2 separate regions of the Homo sapiens genome follow, and region 1 is linked to region 2. Evidence: fine-mapped expression QTL. A gene starts in region 2. The other region holds a variant in brackets. All regions are shown on one strand. Distances are from middle to middle.

The links. PIP is the estimated chance that this variant, and not a neighbour inherited with it, causes the effect.
Region 1: its variant is the best candidate, but not a certain one, in a credible set for the expression of DGKE in whole blood (INTERVAL, PIP 0.55).

What each region holds. Positions count from the first base shown.
Region 1 is chr17:56,793,944-56,805,040 of GRCh38, reverse strand. It overlaps C17orf67 (chromosome 17 open reading frame 67), which reads left to right. Exons shown (of 8, transcript NM_001085430.4): 7 at 9,861-9,997. The coding sequence ends at 9,977. Among named protein-coding and RNA genes, the nearest start is that of C17orf67, 34 kb to the left of the region's middle. The variant T/C (reference allele first, on the strand shown) is at 5,538.
Region 2 is chr17:56,828,634-56,839,730 of GRCh38, reverse strand. It overlaps DGKE (diacylglycerol kinase epsilon), which reads right to left and starts at 5,580. Exons shown (of 12, transcript NM_003647.3): 1 at 5,471-5,580; 2 at 4,472-4,953. The coding sequence starts at 4,935. C17orf67 (chromosome 17 open reading frame 67) reads left to right here and starts at 5,811. Exons shown (of 8, transcript NM_001085430.4): 1 at 5,811-6,113; 2 at 6,389-6,833. It overlaps LOC124904036 (a long non-coding RNA gene), which reads left to right. Exons shown (of 3, transcript XR_007065857.1): 3 at 1,111-3,371. RefSeq lists enhancers at 1,681-2,236, 4,127-4,724, 4,456-4,855, 5,324-5,921 and silencers at 5,246-6,315, 6,289-6,583.

The sequences.
Region 1 (11,097 bases), 35 kb after region 2:
CCGTACAGTATTGGCATTTACTAAATGATTGTTACTTCTTTCCATTCCTTCCTTTGCTTCTCTCCAGGGTAGAAATTTTGTGGGATATAGCTCTGCTGTAAAACCTGGAGGTTATTCCAAATAAATATTTTCTATCGCCTCACTTAGACTCATTAAATTTCTCTTAATCTACTCAAATTTTAGGAAAGAGGTTGTTTGCCAATTGCTCGGGTGAGCTGTGGAAATTCTTTAAAAAGATGAATGTCTTGAAGCTTGAATAAAGCTTGAATGTCTTCAAGCTTAAATTATTTCTTTTGTGATTATATTTGTAAGTGCTTGTGAAACCTGGGAATACACTTTTCTTGGAAGTGTTCCATTTTGGCCTGTGATCCTTTAAGGAGTGTTCTTGTTGGGCAAATATAAATCATTTTAGCTTTATTGTAAGTAGTCTTTGTAAAATATGCTTTCATGTTTAGCTCTTTGACAAATGTATGTAGTAACTCCATTACCCTTTTGTTCCCCATTACCTCAAAGGCCAGTTTGGAGTGACCGAGGTGTAAATTGCCCACAGCACTGTTCTGCCTTTCTTTAGGACGGAGCCTTCAGTATTCCAGTGCAGTTAAGTTCTGAGCCACCATTCTATATATAGGATTACCTTGCTTGTACTAATGAGCAAAATAATTTTTCCAAATGCTGATGGATCTTTAATTCTGCAAAAATGTCACAGGAAGTATTTTGCCTTCTTGGAAAAAGGTCCTGCCTTGATAGAATAACTGTCCACTTTATGATTCTCAGCATAGGTCAAGTTCTGGTGGGTATTTAAGTTCATTATCACACCACTCCAGAGCCATAATAAAGGACTACTTTTAATTTCTGCTCTAATTACTGAGAAATAATTTACTTAAATCATTATAGTTGGCATTTGACATGGAACACAGATACTGGTTTTTGTTTTGCTTTGATTTACACCCCCCCACTTGGAGAAAGGAATCTGAAGAAATTAAAACTCATTTTCCATATACCCCTTCTTCCTTGGTCCAGGAACATTTGAGATTATCCTTAATGTTGGGCCATTTCTAACTCAGCCAGTGCAATTGTTGAATTTGTGGTTTTCAGCAGATTTGCAATTTGCCTTTTGATTTGACTAATGATTGCTTTTTAAGCCTTTGTGGCATATTCGTTTTCCTAATATTTTAAATAAATAGTGAAATGTCATGGAAACCAGTGCTCATTTCTTTCTTATTCTCAGTGTGTGTCTGTTTTGGTTGTTTTTCTTCAATGATTATTTCAGTTGGTGTTTAGGAGTGTGAAATATATATTACTTTTTGGTGCTTTTAATGTACATTTGGCCTAGGCTGTTATAATGAGCAGACTGACACAGATATCAAGAAAATTTCCAAGGAGGATTTAGCAAGATTATAGGGAAAGAACAGTTATTTCATTTATTCATTTGCTCCTTTATACATTTTTCCAGTGAGCTTTGTTGTGGTCCTACTGTGTGCCAAGCACTAAATCACAGACCAGATATACTTTGGTCACTGCCATAAAAAAACTGGGTGGATATTTGGCTGAGAGGGACAGAGATTAAATGAGTAAAGATGCAAATGAGTATATAATTATAAAAGGTACTGTGTATCAGTAGTGACATTCGTTAATATCACCAGTGATCTCATTATAAAAGTCTTTAAGTATTGGGAAGTTGCCAGCCTTCTGTAGCAGATGTAAGTTTTCCAAAATCTGGTTTCCTCTGGGAAGTTCTATTTAATAAATACTGTAAATTGTTTTTCTTGAGGTGACAGGCTCACTTCATTCATTGTCAAGATGTCTGCCCAACATGCACATAAAACATGCATAGCCAGTTCAACACCAGCAATTGCACACATGCTTTTCCTTGTGAAACCCCATTGCACTTTGTCATACAGCAGAAGTACTGCCTGCATATGCCCTTTTGGGTCACTCTATACTGTTTCACCAGGGCATTCTTCAGGGCAACTGGCATTTTAAGAATGTTTTATTTTTATTTTCGTACTGTAAGTGCGTGGTGGGGAAGGATACGATGACCGCTAATAGAATTGGGTACCACTGCCTGGATTCCTGCTAAGGCGCCAGTCATTTTACCTGCCACTGCCTTGGCACATCAGTGAAAATGCCAATACAGCAGGAAGACAAATAATGTCTGAGTATTATTCTAAAAATAGTTTGGCCTTATGGGCCTCTGAGGGGAGCACAGCTCACGCTTTGAAGAATGATGCTGTAGTCTTTTCTTCAACAAGCCTTTACGGAAAGTTTCCTGTGTACCAGTTCCTGGGAAAGATGCTCTCCTTCACAATCTTGATGTGTACTCAGATCTTTGTTATCTAATAGTAGCCAAAGTTAACAGCTAGCATTTAATGCATTCTTACTATGTGCCAAGAATCATGTGCCAAGGCCCTGTAGTATTGGGATCCCAGCAGGAGACTGGGTACCTGAAGAGTGTTTAATAAAGAGACTTTTTACAAAGGCGTGGGCAGGATTAAGGCAAACCAACAAGAAATAATAAAAGATCAGGGTTAACAACCTCTAGACCATAAAGGGGTAAGGGAGGCAGACGGTTCCCGGAGCTGGAGAGGACAGCCTCCTAGGAGCTGTGGCCTTCAGGAGAGGGATGCAGCCAATTGCTGAGGTGAACTGTGGAAATTCTTTAAAAAGATGACATTCAAGCTGAAATGATTTCTTTTGAGATTGTATTTATGCTTGGTGTGGCTGTGACTCCTTGGTGAGGAACTAGGGGATTGAATACCCTGGCCTCTCCCTCCTCCTACCTTCTAATCCGTTCTGGTGTCTCCCACTGATGAAACTCAACCAGAAGCCACAGGCCAAGGGAGTCTACGGCGACAATTAATCTGGGTCCCACGGCCAGGCGAAAAGGGAGACAGACAGGATCTGGAGGGACAAATGCAGGCTACTTATTTGGCACAAAACTTTATTTGCACCATTTCATTTAGTATCTAACCCAAGGAAGCAAGTTAACTAACTTAAGGAAGCAAGTGCTAGTGCAATCCCCATCTTGCAGATGAACAAACTGAGGCTGGAGAGGTAAAGCAATAATGACAGGGTCCAGGTTTGAAGGAGACTCAGACTCTTAGCTTCTATTCCTCCCTGTCTGGCAAACAGGCCAGCAAGAAGCAGGCAGCAGGGGTTCCTTCAGTGTGCTGCTTCCACAGAATAGTTGAACAAGTAAAGTTATATGCTGGGAACTTGTTGTTCCTTATTTACAAGACTGCACACGGCCTTCCTGTTCCTCCCAATTACTATTCTTCTGGCCAAAGACTCCCTGGATAGGGAAGGAACTCAGCCCCAAATCCGCAAACATGTTCAGAAAGCAGCCAGGGAATCACTGTTGGATCCCACAAGGAGCCCTCTCACCATCTGCCCTCTACCCCAGCTGACCCAGAGACTCCCTGCCAGAACACTGAGTGTATTTTGATGAGTTAAATGAAAACAACAACCATAACCAAAACAAATCCAAACTGCATGGGTCTTGGGGGAAAGAAAAAAAAAATCAGAAAAATTGGACACTTCATAATTCCTTCCTTTGCACATTCTTTTTCTTTTTAAATGAGTACATTTGATGTAGAATGCAGAGTTCCTAGAGGGTGTTCTAAAAACTTAAAAACTTAGAGTTCTATAGTGGACCCGACCCTTTGTTAAAGCCTTCTTAATGCCATAGGAAGGTTTCCATGATTTAGAGTTTTTATGATATTGATACATGCCAAAAACAATTTAATCACATCACAAATATGACTGAGTATGTCTACTCTTTCCTAAGGTGAAATGCCACTTCTCTGATTATTGGCCTGCTGTTTGTATGGACCTGTTCTATGCATACTTTGTAATGGTTCACATCCTATAATTACAGCACCAACATTTCCTTCAGGGCAATATAAAAAACACACTCCAAGTTAAAAATCATTCCCATCTCTATCCATTCTCTTTGGAGGGAACATAAAAGAACAAGTTTTTTGTTTTGAGTTTTGTTTGAGCCTCACCCTGTTGCCTGCGCTGGAGTGCGGTGGCACGATCATAGCTCACTGAAGCCTCAAACTCCTGGGCTTAAGTAATTCTCTCGCCTTAGCCTCCTGAGTAGCAAGGACTACAAGTGTGCACCACCACACCCAGCTGGAACATCCAATTTTGATACCAATATATGAGCGAACCCACCTACGACCTCCACTAAACAGTATGAGGCAGGCCAATGAAGTCCCCACTCTCAGGGAGAGCTCACTGCCACACAGAATGACCAGGGAGGGCTATGCTGGGAAAAGTCTATGGAGCTTTGGAGACCCAGAGAAGTGGGGTCACAGGGAATCTGAGAAGGCTTCCTAGAGGAAGTAACATCTAAGCTGAGGCCTGAAAAGTCAGGTAAGAGTGAGATGGGAAAATAAGAAGGTACAGGGGTGTTCTAGGCAGAGCAAACAACAGGTGCTTTGGAAGCCTTAGAAAGAACAGCAAGCATGGCCCGTTCAGGGAAAGATGGAGAACAAAGCTCAAGTGTATTGATGGTGAGAGAAGAGGCTCAGGAGATGGGTGTAGCTGGGTCATGGAAAGACCTTAGCCATATTAAGGAATCAGAACTTTCTCCTGAGACCAGTGGGAGGCATACAGACATTTTAAGTGAAGAAGCAACGTGGGTAAATTAAAAAAATATATCACTTTGCTGCCGGGCGCAGTGGCTCACGCCTGTAATCCCAGCACTTTGGGAGGCTGAGGCGGGTGGATCACGAGGTCAGGAGATTGAGACCATCCTGGCTAACACGGTGAAACCCCGTCTCTACTAAAAATTCAAAAAATTAGCCGGGTGTGATGGTGGGTGCCTGTAGTTCCAGCTACTCGGGAGGCTAAGGCAGGAGAATGGCGTGAACCCGGGAAGCGGAGCTTGCAGTGAGCCGCGATGGCGCCACTGCACTCCAGCCTGGGCGACAGAGCGAGACTCCGTCTCAAAAAAAAAAAAAAAAAAAAAAAAATTAGTTTGCAACAGGATACAGAAAAATCAAGAGGGATTTTTCAACCTCTTCTTTATAACTTTCTTTTTTTTTTTCATGACTTTAAGAAAGTAATATGTATCACTGTTGTGATAAAAATAAAAACCAGTAAAGCTATTTTTGTTCTTTATATTTTAAAAACCCATTCTGACAAAAGACTTGAATAGACATCTACTGAAGAAGATATACAGATGGCAAGTAAGCATGTGAAACATCGTACATCATTAGGGAAATGCAACTTAAAACAACGAGATGCCACTATACACCTATTAGAATGGCCAAAATCTGGAACATGGACAACACCAAATGCTGGTGAGGATGTGAAGCAACAGAACTCTCACTCATTGCTGGTGGAAATGCAAAATGGTGCAGCTACTTTGGAAGACAGTTTGGCAGTTTCTTACAAAACCAGACGTACTCTTAACATACGATTCAATAATCACACTCCCTGGTGTTTACCCAAAGGAGTTGAAAACTTACATCCACACAAAACCTGCCCCCAGATGTTTATAGCAATTTTATTCATAATTACTCCAA[T/C]TTGGAAGCAACCAAGATGTCCAGGTGAATGAATAAATAAACTATGATACATGCAGACAATGGAATATTATTCAACCCTAAAACAAAATGAGCTATCAAGCCACGGAAAGACATGGAGTTAAACTTAAATGCATATTACTAAAGAAAAGAAACCAATCTGAAAATTCAATTACATGTTCTGTGATTCTAACTGTATGACATTCTGGGAAAGGCAAAACTATAGAGACAGTATAAAGATCAGTGGTTGCCAGGGGTTAGGCAGATGAGCAGGCAGAGCAAAGCAGATTTTTAGGGCAGTGAAACTGTTCCGTGTGATATTGCAATGGTAGTGCTAGGGTTTGTGTGTGGTTTGTTCGGCCCCATCAAGTCTCATGTTGAAATTTGATCCCCAGTGTTGGAGGTGTGGCCTTATGGGAGGTGTTTGGGTCATGGAGGTGGATCCCTCATGAATAGCGGTAATGAGGGAGTTTTCACTCTTAGTTCCCATGAGAACGGATTTCTGCAAAGAGCCTGGCACCTTCTCTCTTTCTTGCCTCCTGTCTCACCATGTGATCTGTGTATATCAGCTCCCCTTCACCTTCTGCCATGAGTGGAAACTTCCTGAGGCCCTCATCAGAAGGAGATGTTGGTGCCATGCTTTTATTTTTATTTGTGTTTATTTATCTTTTTTGAGACAAAGGCTCGTACTGTCTCCGAGGGCTGGAGTGCCATGGTGCGATCTCAGCTCACTGCAACCTCTACCTCCTGGGCTCAAGAGATCCTCTCACCTCAGCTTCCTGAGTAGCTGGGACTACAGGCATGCACCACCACATCTAGCTATTTTTTTTTTTGTATTTTTGGTAGAGACAGAGTTTCACCACGTCGCCCAGGCTGGTCTCGAACTCCAGAGCTTGAGTGATCTGCCCACCTCAGCCTCCCAAATTGCTGGGATTACAGATGTGAGCCATGATGCCCGACTGCCATGCATTTGTGTAATACCAAGAGTGAGCCCTAATATCAACTATGGACTGGTGATGGTGCTGTGTCAATGCAGGTGCATCAACTGTAAAAAATATCCCATGCTGGTGGGGGATGTTGGTAGTGGGGGAGGCTGTGCCTGTGTGAAGACAGGGGATATATGGGAATGCTATATTTCTGCTCAATTTTGCTGTGAACCTAAAACTGCTGTAAACAATAATGCCTATTAAGAAAACAAAATAAAACAATAAAAAAAACCCCACAAGAAGAAGAAGGTAGGACAAGGGGTAGTAAGAGCCTGCAGAGGTTGTGGCAGGGGTCTAGCCCCAGGGCTGGGGCCTAAGCTGGGCAGAGGCAGTCGGGCTGGGTAGAAGGGATTCAGGAGCATTCACAGGAGTTAGGCTGCTTAGATGGTGGGAGGGCAAGGAAGAGGAGTGCGCTGAAGCTTCTTGCTTAACTAGCAATGTGGTGCCATGAAGAGAGATATGATGAACCACCTTCAGTATGATAGGCAGTACCTGTAGGCCAGAGATTGCACTAGAAGATGGAGAGGGAAGGAGGAGAGCTTATAACTGACTAAGACAAGAGAAATCACATTTTATTCTTTTATTTAAGAGAGGTCCTGTTGTTTTATCATTTTTCTGTTTTATGCATCACTTATAGGACATAATGCCATGAGTAACCCATATACAGAAAATTCACAGCCTGAACTGGCTTCGGGGAAGACCAAGGCGCATTTGGAGGAGAAGGCCAGCCCTAAAGGCTGGAAGTGACATTCCTGTTGATAAAGGGCAGAGCACGAGCCAACTGAGAGAGGAGATGCAAAGACAAAAATTTCATGCAAAGGATGGGTGTGTTCAGAGGCTGATGAGCTGCAGGTTGCAGAGAGGCCCTATCATGGCCCTCTGTTATTTGTGCTGTCTGCTCCCTTCTCTGGTGGTAGCACACCTGCCACTCCTCATCATCCTGGTATGGACGCGGTTTTTCTCTGCCCTGACCCCAGTCCGTTCTCCACCCTGCTGTGCCCCACTCTGTGCTCAAGGAGACTGACTCCTGCAGACTGAATCCCTTGGTTCCCTGGCCAGCTGGCTTCTGATTGGGCCCTGCAGGATATTGAGGGGAAGAGGAGGGAGAGGATGGGCTGTTTGTTCCCTGTTCCCTCCTTGCCTTGCAAAGGTTGTGCTGTGCCCCCAAGACCACAGCAGCCCCACCCACCTGGCCCCAGGCCTAATGGCTCCTCTAAGGGTTCTCCACCCTTGGCCCTGCAAACTTAGACATGGTCATGACTTCCCTCTATTGCTAGTCCCTGGGTGCTAGAATATTCTTTGATAGTTCCCTTAACCCTACTCACATGGCTATGAATGTTCCCTTCATTAAAGTCTCTTCAGGCAACCATTTCAGGGAGAAATTGCGTTTTTGAGAAGCATAGAGATTAACAAAGGCTGTCAATGACCATTGTAGACCAAGGTGGGAGGGCAGGGCCACTCCCTGCTGTTGGGAGGAGTGGGGGAAGGAGGGGAATCCTACCCAAAGCTGCACTCATCTGCTGGCTTGCAAGTACATTATCCAGAGCCACAGACAAAACCCGTGGGTAGAGGCAGATGCTGACTCCTTGCAGGTAGACAGCACTGGTGAAGGCTTCGAGGAGGAAGGTGGCCCTGGTGGGCCACCTTTGACCCCTTTTGGGTCACTCTGTCAGAGTGGAGCAGGGATGGGGGAGGGAGGAGGCATGGGGTGGGAGGAATGCAACACGCAGGGGTGGGACAGAGAGAGGGGTGAGGAGTCTGCGGCAGCCTTGGTGGACAATGGTGAAGACCTGACCTAGGGAAGTGGCAGAGACGAGGGAGGGCATCTGAGAACTATTCCGGAGATAGCCTCAACGTCCCGATGCTCAGTCTTATGTTGAGTTTGAGGGTGAGTGAGGCAATGACAGTTGGTGTTCTGGAGCGGGTTCCTGAGTAGATGGAGATGCTGGCCACAGTAAGGGGCAGGACTGGTCAGGGCAAGGAGCTGCTTTCTGTTGTGGACAGATTAATGTATGGGGCTGGCCACCTTTCATATGAACAGAATCATACACCGTGTGGTCCTTTGTGACATAAGTGTCCTAAGTGGCTTCTGTCACTTAGCATAATGTTCTCAAGGTTCATCCATGTTGTAGCAGGGATCACTGCTTCATTCATTTTAATTGCCAAATAATATTCCATTATATGGAAGTAGCATATTTTATTTATCCACTCATTTATTGGTGGACATTTGGGTTGCTTCTGGTTTTTGGCTGTGACAAATGATGTTGGTGTGAACATCTGTATACAAGTTTTTGTGTGGACATCCATTTTTGTTTCTCTTGGGTATATACCTACAAGTACAGTTGCTAGCCAGGAGTACGAATGGTAATTCTAGGTTTAATATTGTAAGGAACTGCCAGACTATTTTTACAAAATGCTTCTCTATTTCTAGTAACATTTTTATATTTTAAAGTCTTTTTGTTTGATATTAGCATAGCAACCCTAGCTTTCTTCTGCTTATCCCTTGTCTTTTAAAAAAGATGATTTTATCAGAAATGCATATAGCCATAAGTAATATATTACATGATTTAGTTACACATATTTGAACTTTATAAAAATAGTGTCACACTATAAATGTAGTTACTTGGACTTTTCACTCAGTATGCTATTTCTAAGACCCATCTATGTTGTTGTATATAGCTACAGTATAATTTATGTTCTCTGCTGTATAATAGTCCATGGCATAACCCTAACATAATTTATTGATTCATTCTCCTGTAAGTGGCTATTTGGCATGTTTCCAGTGTTTTGCTATGACAAATTTATTGCTGCTATAAACATTTTTATATGCCTTTCCTGATATAAGAGTTTCTTTTGTTCTCAGAGCAACTAGCAATATAACTATTAGCTAGGAACTTGTTAGAAATGCAACTTCTCAAGTCCCACCCAAGACCCACTGAGTCAGAAACTGTAAGATAGGCCCAGCAATCTGTGTTGTAATATCAGATATCAGGTGACTCTGATATCTGATAAAGTTTGACGTCCACTGCGCTAGGGTATAAAGTAGGAGTGAAATTTCTAGATTGCAGGCAATCAGATGTTTTCTGAAGTTGTTGTCCCATGTTTTCATGGAAATCCACCCGCTCAGCACTTAGTATTGTCAGACTTCTTTATTTTGCCCACTGGGTGGGTCAGTCTGACTGGTCTTCCCTACAGAGAGGCATGGGTGTGGCCGTTGATTTCTTCTCCCTGCCTGTCCTCCCATCCTGCCCTGTCTAGGGAGCCAGAGCCACACCACGCATATTGATCCCTTGGCTGTCACTGTGGGTGAAGCCTTCTTCAGTGTGGTTTGTTTTGACAGGAATACATGCACCACCTGCTCGCCCTGGAGCATCGCGCTGAGGAGCAGTTCCTGGAGCACTGGCTGAACCCTCACTGCAAACCCCACTGTGACAGGAACAGGATTCATCCTGTGTAAGGGGATCAGGACCAGCCTCGGTACGTCTCCTTCTCTCTCCCGGACCTCTGTCTGAGGGAGTGGTGGGGGACAGCATGGCATGGGCTGGGAGACTTTCCAGACCATGCCTCAGGGGGGCCAGCTGGTTAGCTGGTTATGGGTTTGGAATGGGGGTGGCAAGAGTGAGGCAGGAGACATAGTGGGGAGCCAGGTTGAGAGGAGCACTGGGGGACAAATGGGGGAGCCCAACTTTTATTGAATCACAAAGTGATCCCGAATGGGGAGGGACGTGACCCTATTTGCCATGCAGAAAAGCTCTCTCTGGACCCCAAATGTGGAGAAGTGTGTTTTGTTGAGACTTGGGTCTCTTCAGGTGGGCTCAGCATTCGTGGAGTCAACCTGTGACATCTACCATGATCATCACCACTGTCATCAGGATCAACAACTTCTTTCCCAGATCTCGCTCCTGTTCCCTACTGCCTTCCTGCAGCCTTCAAGGCTGCCAATCTGCCCAGCCCACCCTCTGTCTTTCCCTTTCCCTGGGGCTTCTGTTTTCAGCCCACCAGCAGGGTACTGCCCAGCTTTCCCCCCACACCCTGCATGCCCCCAACTCTGTACCTCTGTGCCTAGATGAGGCTGTTTGCTTCTCCCTGTCTGTCCTCATCATCTTCCCCCCTTTCCAAATCCTGTTAGATAAGGTAGCAAAATTCCTTCAGAGGGTAAGCCCAGTGAATTTCATTTCTCCTCTGTAAGTTTTGTGGACCAAGCAGGACAAGATATAATCAGGTAGTTTATCTTTGTGGTTAAGAGAAATCTTATACCTTTGTTGTTTATTTTGTGCTACTGTGAATTGACACAGGGACGCTCCTATTAATCACTCTTTATAATGTAACATAAATTGCCTCACATGATCCTCTTAATACCCTGGTGTCATTGCAGGGCATGCACTTTAACCCCATTTTAAAGAGGAACTAATTGAGCATGATTAAGCTACTAACTCAGGCTAAGCAGTGGTTGGTATGCTAGGCTTCTGACCACCGTAAATCTGCATGCTTTATGTGGACCGTGTTGCACAGTCCTGTGTGTGTGTGGGCATGAAATCACTCTGAGGGAGCTTTCACAGATAATGAGAGGATCACCT
Region 2 (11,097 bases):
TGGGCAATATGGTGATACTCCTATCTCTACAAAAAAGAAAAAAAAAATATCAGGCATGGTGGTGCATGTCTGTAGTCCCAGCTACTTGGAAGGCTGAGGTGGGAGGATTGCTTGAACCTGGGAGGCTAAGGCTGCAGTAAGCCATAATCTTGCCACCGTCTTCCAGCCTAGGCAATATAGAGTAAGACCCTGTCTCAAAAAACAAAATAAAATAAAATGCTTACTAATTACTCAGTATTACATTCTTCTTTAGAAATACCATATTCAAACCTGAATCCTATTGTCTTTACCTATGTTGTAATTGGTATTTAACAACCTAGATTTCAAACTCACTGGGAAGATAAGACATTACTAAAATGTCTTGGTATTTCAGCTTTAGCATCATGTCATTGGGTAACAGCTTATCATCTTTTTTCTTTTTATTTTGAAAAATTCCAAACTTTCAGAGAAGTCAAAAGGATAGCAAAATGAATACCCTAAGCCCACCCTTCACGCTGATTCTTAATGACATTTTCTCCCACAATATTCTCTTTCCATATAAATTCATATTTTTTTGATCATTTGAAAGTAAACTGCAGACAGTATGAGATCTCACCCTTCAATATTTTAGCAAATATATTCTAAAAGCAAGAATAGTTTACTTGCTTTTTAAAATATTTTACTTAAAAATATTTTTTACAGGTATGCCTACCACCTACATTCTACCATTAACATCTTACTGTAATTGCTTTGTCACATTTCTATCCATTAATTCATCTTATTTTTAGTACATTTCCAAGTAAACTGAAGACATCAGAATACTTCCTGAATACATCAGCAAATAGGCTTATCACTACCTAGAATTCATGATGTTTTTTCCTTTTCATGTAAAATTTACATACAATGAAATGTACGTATATACTTCCTGAGTTTTGATAAATGAACATACGTAACTAAAACCCTTATCAAGATATAGAACATTACTCTAGAAAGTTCCTTCATATGAAAATATGGAATGCCTCATGAATTTATATGCCGTTCTTGTGCAGTAGTATTTATAGAAAAAAAAAAGGTTTAACAAGGCTTGTTTTCTCTAAAAAATTACCTGGTCACAATAGCTCTCTTTTTTAGTGTGCTGAAGGAGGCAGCTGAATTATACATAAAGTTGAGATGGTCATTTATAAGATTCACTAGAACAGGGTTCTGCAAACTGCAAATATGTCTGCCATCTGATTTTGTGAATGAAGTTTTACTGGAACACAGGTAAGCTCATTCATTTATGTATTGTCCATGGCTGGTTTTGCACTGCAACTATGGCAGAGTTAAGTAATTATGACAGACGAAATGGTTGGGAAAGCCGAAAATTCTTTTGGCTCTTTACAGTAAGTTTGCCCACCTCTGCTCTAGAAGATGATTTGGTATCTTTCACTGTTTCAGATAATTAATGAAATGAATAAACACACACCAATAGAATATAGAAACAAAATTTATGATCAAAGCTGAGACTAGTTACACTGAGGCCAATCTAACTGCCTTCTGAGAGTCAGCAGCTTTGTTTTACTAATCACAGTAATTGTGTGTGAGGCGTGGGGTAGATGTAATGAATAAAAAGTCCAATAAATTAAAAAGCACTTTAAGTTCTTTTTCTCTTAATGAGATAGAACACTACAAGAAACAAAGGTTCATTTAATAAATATATTGAATATGTAAAAATATAACCTAATTCCCTATTTTAGTCAGAGGAGAGATAAGAAGAAGAAAAAGAAGATGTAGTGGTTGGGGGTAGAAACAGGAGCACACAAAAAGAAAAAATCTACAGACAAAGTAGACTCTAGCAGTGTCTAGAACAAAAATAGATGCTCAATAAGTATAATGATCGAATGAGTATAAATTAAAGGGCCTTTCTCACTTATTCTGCAGGCTTTAAACTCAGTCATCATCTCTCATTAGTGTCCTTTGAAATGTAACTTGTCTGCAGAGTTCACTCACTTCCCTAAGAATGAGATGCAGACAGGGAAGGAGCTCTCCTCAGGGCTAGATAAAATCCAGAGGACTGTCTGGTCTGTGTTTAAAGGTTCTAAGTAGCTATTTATTTTGTTTCTCCTTCCAAAATATCTCATTCCTACAGAAGGTCACAGGAGACTGTAATCCTGTATACAATTATTGGCCAACATAAATCAGTTCAGAACACTGTAGAATATGTACAACTTCAGGACACTGTGGTCTCTTCTCTTGGGAATAATAAACATCTCCTAAATTACACAGAGACAATTTCTATCATGGGGTAAGGGGTTACTCTGTAAAAATGCACTAATGAAGAAAAGAAGATTTATTATCACACAGATTCAGTGTGCTCAATGGGAGGATACAAAATTAAGAGACGGAGGTGCATGTTTTTAAAGATATGTAAATATAGCAGTGGTTCTCCATCTTTAGAAGGACCTGTAGGGCCTGTTAAAACCAAGACTGCTGATGTCCAGCCCAAGTTTCTGATTTAGTAGGTCTGGGGTTGGGCTAGGGTTGCCAGAAAAAAAAAACAAAAAAACGGCAATGCCTAGTTGAATTTGAATTTCAGAGAAACTTTTTATGTTCCAAATTCTGCAATATTTTATTTTTATCTGCTAAATCTAGCAACCCTAGAATTTGCATTTCTAACAGATTTTGAAGAGATGCTGATGCTGCTGGTCTAGGGACCTTACTTTGAGAACCACTGAGATATAGGATATTACGTTATCACCAAAAAGGAAAAACTGGGGGAGGAGGGAAGCTGAGTAGATCAGGTAAGAGTTCCTGAAGGAAAGGACAAGGACATGGGATGGGTCTTTAAGGGTGCCTAGAAGCTAGCCAGAAGAATACTGAGAGGAAAGCTTTGAGCAAAGGGGCAGAAATGTCAGAAAATGCCTGACGTTTTAAGGAAATTACAAGAAGCTTAGTGTTGCTGGTGCATAAAGTTTAATGCAGGTGGTGGTAGATAAAACTAAAAGGACAGAGGCCAGAAAGTACTAGGACCTTATGTACCCTGTGAAAAAGCACTTAGGGGTTTACACTGTAAAACAGTCAGCTTACCCGATGGGGAGCAATTTAAAGGATTTTAAGCAGAGCAGGGACTTGATCAGATTTGCATTTTTAGAAAGATCATTTGGGTGGAGGATCAGAAGCATGATTATGTGTTCAAGAGTATTTGAAATACGGTTATTTATGGAAACCATTTTTAATATAATTCTGCACAGACACAGACTGCTGGAGGCTACACCAGAGAAGGGAAGGAAATAGAACAATACTCAATTCATTATGAAATTTATTTAAAGTCCCTGCTAACTTGGCTCTCACTGATGCCAGAAGGACAGCATTTAATTTTTAAAGATACCAAATAAAAATGCATGGTTACAAAACTTTGTAGTTGTCTAGAATACATTATTTTGAACATTTATTCTTAAGCCTCTTTGATAATGTGTAAAATTATTTAAAATAAGACTTAAAAACAGGTATTGACATTATAATAGCGTTCATGCTAATGAAAGAATTTCTGCAAAAAAAATTAAAAAAATTAAAAAGCAGCTTCCTATTTACTGCCTATTTCATTTCTTAAGCATGTTTATGCGCCTTTCTACTTGTCAGAAATAAAACCCATTACAATGAAGATGTCCAGACTTAAGGCTCAAAGGAGGCTAAGTGTTAGTCCAGAGCTGGAAATCCTGGAGGCCAGTCCTATTTTACCAGAGTGGACCTAACGGGCTTTAATTTTCTCAACTGTGAACTGAGTTAGAATAGATCATTTGCAAAGCAGCATTCTCCTTTACCAATTTCCAACATCAGCAAAGGACATCTTCACCTATTTTCAAACAATATTTAAGGACAAAAATGTGTTGTCCAGTGTGTATATAAAAGACATTAAAATATTCTTGGCTTAATCAAGGTCACTTATCTAAGATTCTACATGTCCTGAAAGACCAAGCGTCAAAAGGAATATTCCTTTCAGTGTTCTTTTTGAGTATATTTCGCTATGGTACCAACAGCTATATTAGCAAAAGACATAAAAGTGCTGCCTTGGAATGACACTTGTTTTCACTGCACATTCATAGTACAAAACCTGTGACCCATCAGTTTTGCGGCTGAAGGGAAAAGTTAATTTGTCCATATTTCATTTTTCCTTATTTAAAATAAGGAGATAATCGATAGGAACAAAAGCTAAAATATACAGTGGCCATGAAGCAGGCACCACTTAGAAACCTCTGTATTAACGTTAGGAGCCAAGTTTTATTACCCAAAAGGGCAGGCTGGCTGAGGAGTGGAGGCTGGATGCATCGTCTCAGCAAATGACTACTGCAAAGCTGCCACGCTTGCACAAACTCAGGGATGTTTATTTATTAGCTTGTTTCCTCAAAATGAGTTTAGGTCATCAGCAGAGATTAAAGCAGGCCTCTACACCACTCTATGAAATCCTGATTCCCACGGCGCATTCTGGGACAGTGAGTGTCCACGAAGACCATACCTGTAATCGCAAAGCTTGGGTTGACAGCCACACTGCTGCTTGCAAACCATACAGTAACTGCACAGGGGCACGTTGCCCCGGATCCAGTGGTGGGGCATGGCGTCCAGGACCTTGGTGTCATTCTTGAGCATAATCTCCTTGCACTGGAAGCGCTTGTCGGCCTTCCTGAGGCAGCCCTCGTCCACGCGGAGCCCGCAGCAGTCGCAGAAGGCGCCCTGCAGAATGTGCTGCGCGCACACGCAGCAGTAGGTGGGCTGGCTGAACAGGTCCGTGTCGCGCCACCCGTGCTTGCTCTTGCGGAAGATGTCCCTGCGGTGCAGCTGCCGGCGCGACCGCTGGAGGCTACACCAGAAGGTGATGAACACCGGCAGCAGGACCGAGCACAGCGTCCACAAGATCAGGTGCCCGTCCGCAAACAGGCCCTCGGAGGGCGAGCCCGGCGCCGGCCGCCTCTCCGCTTCCATCTTCTCCAAGGACGATACCTAACCAGAAAAGAAACAGGCGGTGCACCCCGAGCTCGCCATCCCTTCCCCGCCCCCTTCCTGCCTTTCCGGGGCCAAACCGGGCGCCCTCAGTGAAGGTGGCTCCGCTCTCCCGAGGGCGGGACTGCGCCTCGTCCCCCCGTCTCCCGGGACCTGCCGCGCCGAGAAGGCGACGTCCAGCCATCACGCTCCAATCCCCACTCCCCAACCCGCCCCACCTCGGGAGCGCGTCCAGGAGCCCAAGGCGGCTGCTGCTGCCGCCGCCGCCTCACCTTGCCGCCGGTCTGACCCACGGAAGGGCGCAACATACAGGGGCAAGCTGCCCTCCACCGAAAGGCCGGGCGTTCAGGCCAGGCAACGCCGGTCGGCGCCCGTAACCGTCGGCCCAGGCCTCGCACTCCCCTCCGGGGCGCCGTCTCCTCCCGGGCCCCACCCGCTCCCACGCGCGGCCCGGCGACCCTAGCCCCTCTCGGGAGGCCTCCGGAGACCTGCGCCGCGCCGGTCCTCGAAGCCCTACCTCGCGCGGGTGGAGGCGCGGCTCCGGGCCAGCAGGCCTTGGCCGCCTCGCGCAGGAGGAGAACGACGCTGGGCCGCCAGCAGGGATGAAGCCGGGCGGGGGAAACGCTTAAGGCTCCAGCCGCACGCACGCCGATCCGGCGCGCGGGGCCGCGAGCTGGAGGCGGGGCCTGTGGCGGCGAGCCCCGTGGCTGGGCGGAGCCAGGGCTGACGGGCGGGGCGGAGGTGTGAGGTGGGAGGGGAGACGGACCGGCCTGAGGGGGCGGGGCCGTGGAGGAGGCTGGAGACGGATGGAAGAGGCAGGGCACTGCGGCTGGGGGCGGGGCCTAGGGGAAGGGGGCGGAGTAACAGTGGGGCGTTTGAGAGGATGGAGGGTTGAATGCCAAAACTTCGTAATCGTAGAAAATTCTGGAAAGCCGCCGGCGGGGCAAGGCCACGAGGATCCTCCTCGCAGCACCGCGCCGCGCGGGGCCCAGGGGCCGCGCTCACGCCCGCCGCTCGGCGCAGACACGAGTGCCCCCGACTTGAGCCGAACCTCTAGCCGATGCCGGCGCCGCCGCCGCCGGGGATGCGTAAGCCGACTGGGAAGCGAGGGGGGGAGGCGGCCTGCGCGGCACCGCCCGACCTGGCCGCGGCGGGCTGAGGTAGGTGTGGCGGCCGCAGTAACGCAAACCTGAGGGCTCCTCCGCTGCGGAGCGGCGGGCGGGCGCGGAGGCCGAGGGCGAGCGGGGCAGCCGCCCGCTCGTCGCCGCTGACCCCGAGCCCGGCCGCGGTTTCCGCCCCCTGCCGTGGCGGGCGGGCCTCCCCTGCGCTACCCCCTCGCCCGCGCCCGCCAGCGCCCGAGGCCGGGGAGAAAGGGGAGCAGCGGGAGCCGGGGACTACCGGAGATGGGAGCACGCCTCCTGCTGCTGTCGTCCAGCCCCAGGTTCCGGAGGAATGCTCGCTCCCCGCTGGAGTCCTACCAGCCCAACACGGACCTGAGCCGCGACCACGCGGGCTGCAGCCTGCAGCACATCAGCTACCCGGAGAACGCGGACGCGGAAGCACCGCTGCTCAGCACCCCCGAAGAAACACGGAATCCAGAGAGGCACAGGCACCGCCCCGGCGCGCACAGCTGCACTCAGCGGCTTCCTTCCTACTACATACATACATAGGAGTGGGAGCCGAGGACCACTTGTTGCTTGCGGACTTCCTCTAGCATAAAAGATGGAAAGAAAACACACACCGAAGCAAGGGACCAAAGGAACAGAAAAGAAACGCAGAGATCATAGGAAAACTGCAAAGAAATACTTGATAATATCTTCCAAACGATTAGAGAAGACATAACATTCATTAAGAATACACATATAGATGTATATATACGTGTATGTGTGTATGTATATATTATTATGTGTGCATATATATGCATGTGTATGTGCGTATATTTGTATTAACTGTAGAAGATAAAGCTAGACACTAGTAAAAGTGGTAAAGCAGATTTTAATAATATACTATTGTAATAGGGAAGAAGGTACCTCGTGAACGGAACTGAACTTTGTGCAGAAGTGACTAGGTGTTTAAGAGGGAGGAGGAGGGAATGTGAAGGGGATGAGCAGGAACTCAGTAGTCAGGAAAGTGAAACTTGTGAAGGGTGGGTCAGTGTAAGTAAGGTTAGGCGACAGTGCCTGTTAGATGGCTGTTATGGGAGTCAGGGTCCTATCCTCCCACAGTAACTGGGAGATAGGCCCTTTGCTTCCTGGTGATTGCATGTTGGAGGAATGGCTTTCAGGTTCTTGAGAAGGATACTCCTGATGTGTAGGAGACATTACATCCCAGAGAGACAGAGGAAGGATTCACAATTGTTTAGTTTTTTGTTGTTGTTGTTAACTCTTTAAGAAAGGGACATCAGGGGCTGCTTGTAAGGTGTTGGCAATAGCCAACAGTGAGTTCTTTTGGCAGCTTTCCCAGGAAGATACTTTAGGGGGTCTGGGGTCATCCTATGGATGCAGCTTTGAGCAGTTAAAAACTATGTGTTTAGGCCGGGCGCTGTGGCTCACGCCTGTAACCCCAACACTTTGGGAGGCCGAGGCAGGTGCATCACGGGGTCAGGAATTCAAGATCAGCCTGGTCAAGATGGTGAAACCCCGTCTCTACTAAAAATACAAAAAATTAGCTGGGCATCGTGGTGAGTGCCTGTAGTCCCAGCTACTTGGGAGGCTTGAGGCAGAGAATTGCTTAACCCAGGAGGCGGAGGTTGCAGTGAGCTGAGATCGCACCAATGTATTCCAGCCGGGGCGACAGAGCGAAACTCCGTCTCAAAAAAAAAGAAAGAAAAAGAAACTGTGTGTTTAAGCGTTTTGATATAGGGGGAAGGATGGACCCGATCCTTTTTGCTGAAGTCTGCAGATTTCATAGGCCAAGGTGGAGGCCTAGTTGAAAAGGGGGCTCAGGGAAGCCTGGCTAGAGCTTGGTCAAGGAGGGGATCTTCATCAGTCGTACGTATGTACATGGCACGTGGACCTGCATAGACACGTGTTTGGTGGAGGCTGTCTTATACGGATTCTGCACAACTCAAGTCCCCTAATGGGAACAGACTTGGGGAGGTCACTCTTGAGGCTTTTTGTGGTATTGTGGCTACTGGGAGACCTGAGGAGGGTTCTGGTCACTAGCAGACTCATTTCATTCACCCCTTGGAATCTGCCCAGGACTTGGACTTCTGTGTAATAGTAACTTCACGCCCCAATGATCCTCCACGTTCCTTGCTGATGCTGTGATTGCTCCTCCAAGTTCTCCACCTATGTCCATCTGAGCACTTGGTATTTCTACTCTAGTGTCAAAAGGTCCTGTTCCCAAGTCTCCTCCCAAACATTTATTCCAATTTATCATCCAGATGCCCGTCCTTTGCCATCCCTCTCTGTTCCAGCAAAGGACACCACCCCTCAGGGAGATGCTCACAGTGGACTCCTTGTCCTCATCCTGACTCCCCTTTTCTCTGGCACCCGCAGGCCTCAGTGAGTCTCTCGGTCTCTGGCAGCAGCACAGGTCCTGGACTCGAGCCCATCTCTCCATCCCCCCCTCCACTACTCCCCTGGTCCAGCTGTCACCATTCTCACCCTTGAATGACTGTCACAGCCTCCCACCTGGTCTTCCTGCTTTACTATGTTCCCTGCAGGCTGCCTCTGAACTTTTATATTGAAATGAAACTCTTACTGTGGGGAAAACCCCTCCATTCTCAGACCCCTGGTACCCTTCACTCATTTACCACTCTGGCCATCGTTCACTGAGTTCAGGCCACTCTGGCCTCTGCATGGTCCTCACGCCCACCAGACTCATGCCCCCTTCAGGGCTATTGTCAGTTCTACCCCCTTTTCCTACAAAGTTCTTCCCTATGTCTTCGTTGCCCAGGTGCTCCCTCCCGACAGAGGCCTTGCTGACCACCCCTACCAAGATTGCCCCACATTTATGTAAATCCAGTCTGTTTAACTATTAGGGTGAGTGACCTCCATTCATACTTGATAAATAATTTACAGTTATCTAAATACAGTGCCTGACTCAACATAAAGACACAGAGGAAGTTTAAATGGAAAGTTTAATTCAGGTTACTTTTGTCAGGTATCTCTCTTACATACCAAAATAAAAATGTATAAATACAAAAAAAAAATTAGCCAGGCGTGGTGGCTAATTGAGAGGAGATGGGGAAAAGTGATGTGGGGTTCCCCAATGTTGTCCAAGGGGATTTCTTCTTAGAAATCTCTCCCTACATCACTCTTGTAGTGAAATAAAACCATCTCCATGTAATTTATTAATTTTGTTTTTTGAAAAATATCCACTATTTGAATCTAAATATTATAGAAATTTCTCTTTAAACATTCCCTTTTACTTTATCCCAAAATAAATCTCCCTTTGCATAAATTTTTTCTTTTTCTTTTTTTTTTTTTGAGACGGAGTCTCGCTCTGTCACCCAGACTGGAGTGCAGTGGTGCGATCTTGGCTCACTGCAAGCTCCGCCTCCCAGGTTCACGCCATTCTCTTGCCTCAGCCTCCCGAGTAGCTGGGACTACAGGTGCCCGCCACCACGCCCGGCTAATTTTTTTTGTGTTTTTAGTGGAGACGGGATTTCACCATGTTAGCGAGGATGGTCCTGATCTCCTGACCTCATGATCCGCCTGCCTCAGCCTCCCAAAGTGCTGGGATTACAGGTGTGAGCCACCACGCCCGGCCAAATTTTTCAACAAATACATACTCAAGCCAAAAAATGGTGCTTTAACTTATGACTTAAAATTGTTGGGACTATAACTCTAGAAAAAATATTGCAGTTGAGTACCGAAAGTATTGATAAATGAAATCTGTTTTCAAAGTGCAATAATTTTGTAGAGGATAAAATAGAAATTGTTCACCTAGGAGATTAATACATAAATAATATTTACAGAGCATTGTCTTGAGAAATGCAGTTTGATGATGTTTCAGTTTGAGCAAAAGATGAGGCTCTAAAGTATGGCATTTCTTTTGCTGCTAATGAGAGAGAATCCAGACTTTGCTGATGTGCTCCAGGGTCTCCTGTATTCTTTAGATTTGGAGGAATCAACCATGAAGGAGCTGGCTGCAGTGTCAGAAGGGGAAGGTGGAAACTTCAACACAAAAAGGGGCTCCCCTAGATCCACTGGCCTCAGGGACCCTCGGATGGAGTCAACATGGGAGAACCTGGCCTGGCAGCTCTGGAGGCCTGAGTGGAGGGGAGAGAACAGCGCTGCCCTAAGACCCAAGCCCTCCTGGGGAAGGGAGCAGCAGGGCTTGGCTCTTGGCTGCCTGGCTGGTGTGGAAAAGCTCCTTGTGATGGGGTGACTCCCATGGCCTCTTCCAGGGACTCCAGCATAGATAACGTCTCTGCCAGCCCTTCTTGTTGCTTAGAGAGTCTGGATCTCTCTTCTTTTTTCTTTTCTTCTTTAAACCTCTCTTCTTTGAGTTCTTGAACCAGGGATGTGATTTTTATTTTATTTTATTTTTTTGCAATGGAGTCTTGCTCTTGTTGCCCAGGCTGGAGTGTAATGGTGCGATCTCAGCTCACTGCAATCTCCACCTCCCAGGTTCAAGCAATTCTCCTGCTCCAGCCTGCTGAGTAGCTGGGATTACAGGCGCCCGCCACCATGCCTGGCTAATTTTTGTATTGTTAGTAGAGATGGGTTTCACTGCTGGCCAGGCTGGTCTTGAACTCCTGACTCAGGTGATCTGTCCACCTCGGCCTCCCAAAGTGTTGAAATTACAGGTGTGAGCAGCTGTGCCCCGCTGGGATGTGAATTTCTGCATCAGCATTGCGTTGGTGCTGTTCACCTTATAAGCATCTACAAAACTGGGGATGTTTAAATACTTTTTCATACACCGACATCCTCTAAGGATCCCTCAATCTCTGCAGTGTTTTTTTTTTTTTTTTTGTCATCACTGTGCTTGCCTGTGAGTTGGCATTTCTCCTCCATGTGTGAATCCAGTGTTTCTGCAAGCTGCTTTTCGTATGTTACATGGAGTCGATTCCTAACAGGTTGACTAAGGAAATGAAAGCCACGAAAGTTAGGATAGTAGTTCCCTGTGATGGGGGAGAAGGTGTACCAAACAACTGGGCACACCAGAGCTCCCAATCTTCAATATGTTAACCTG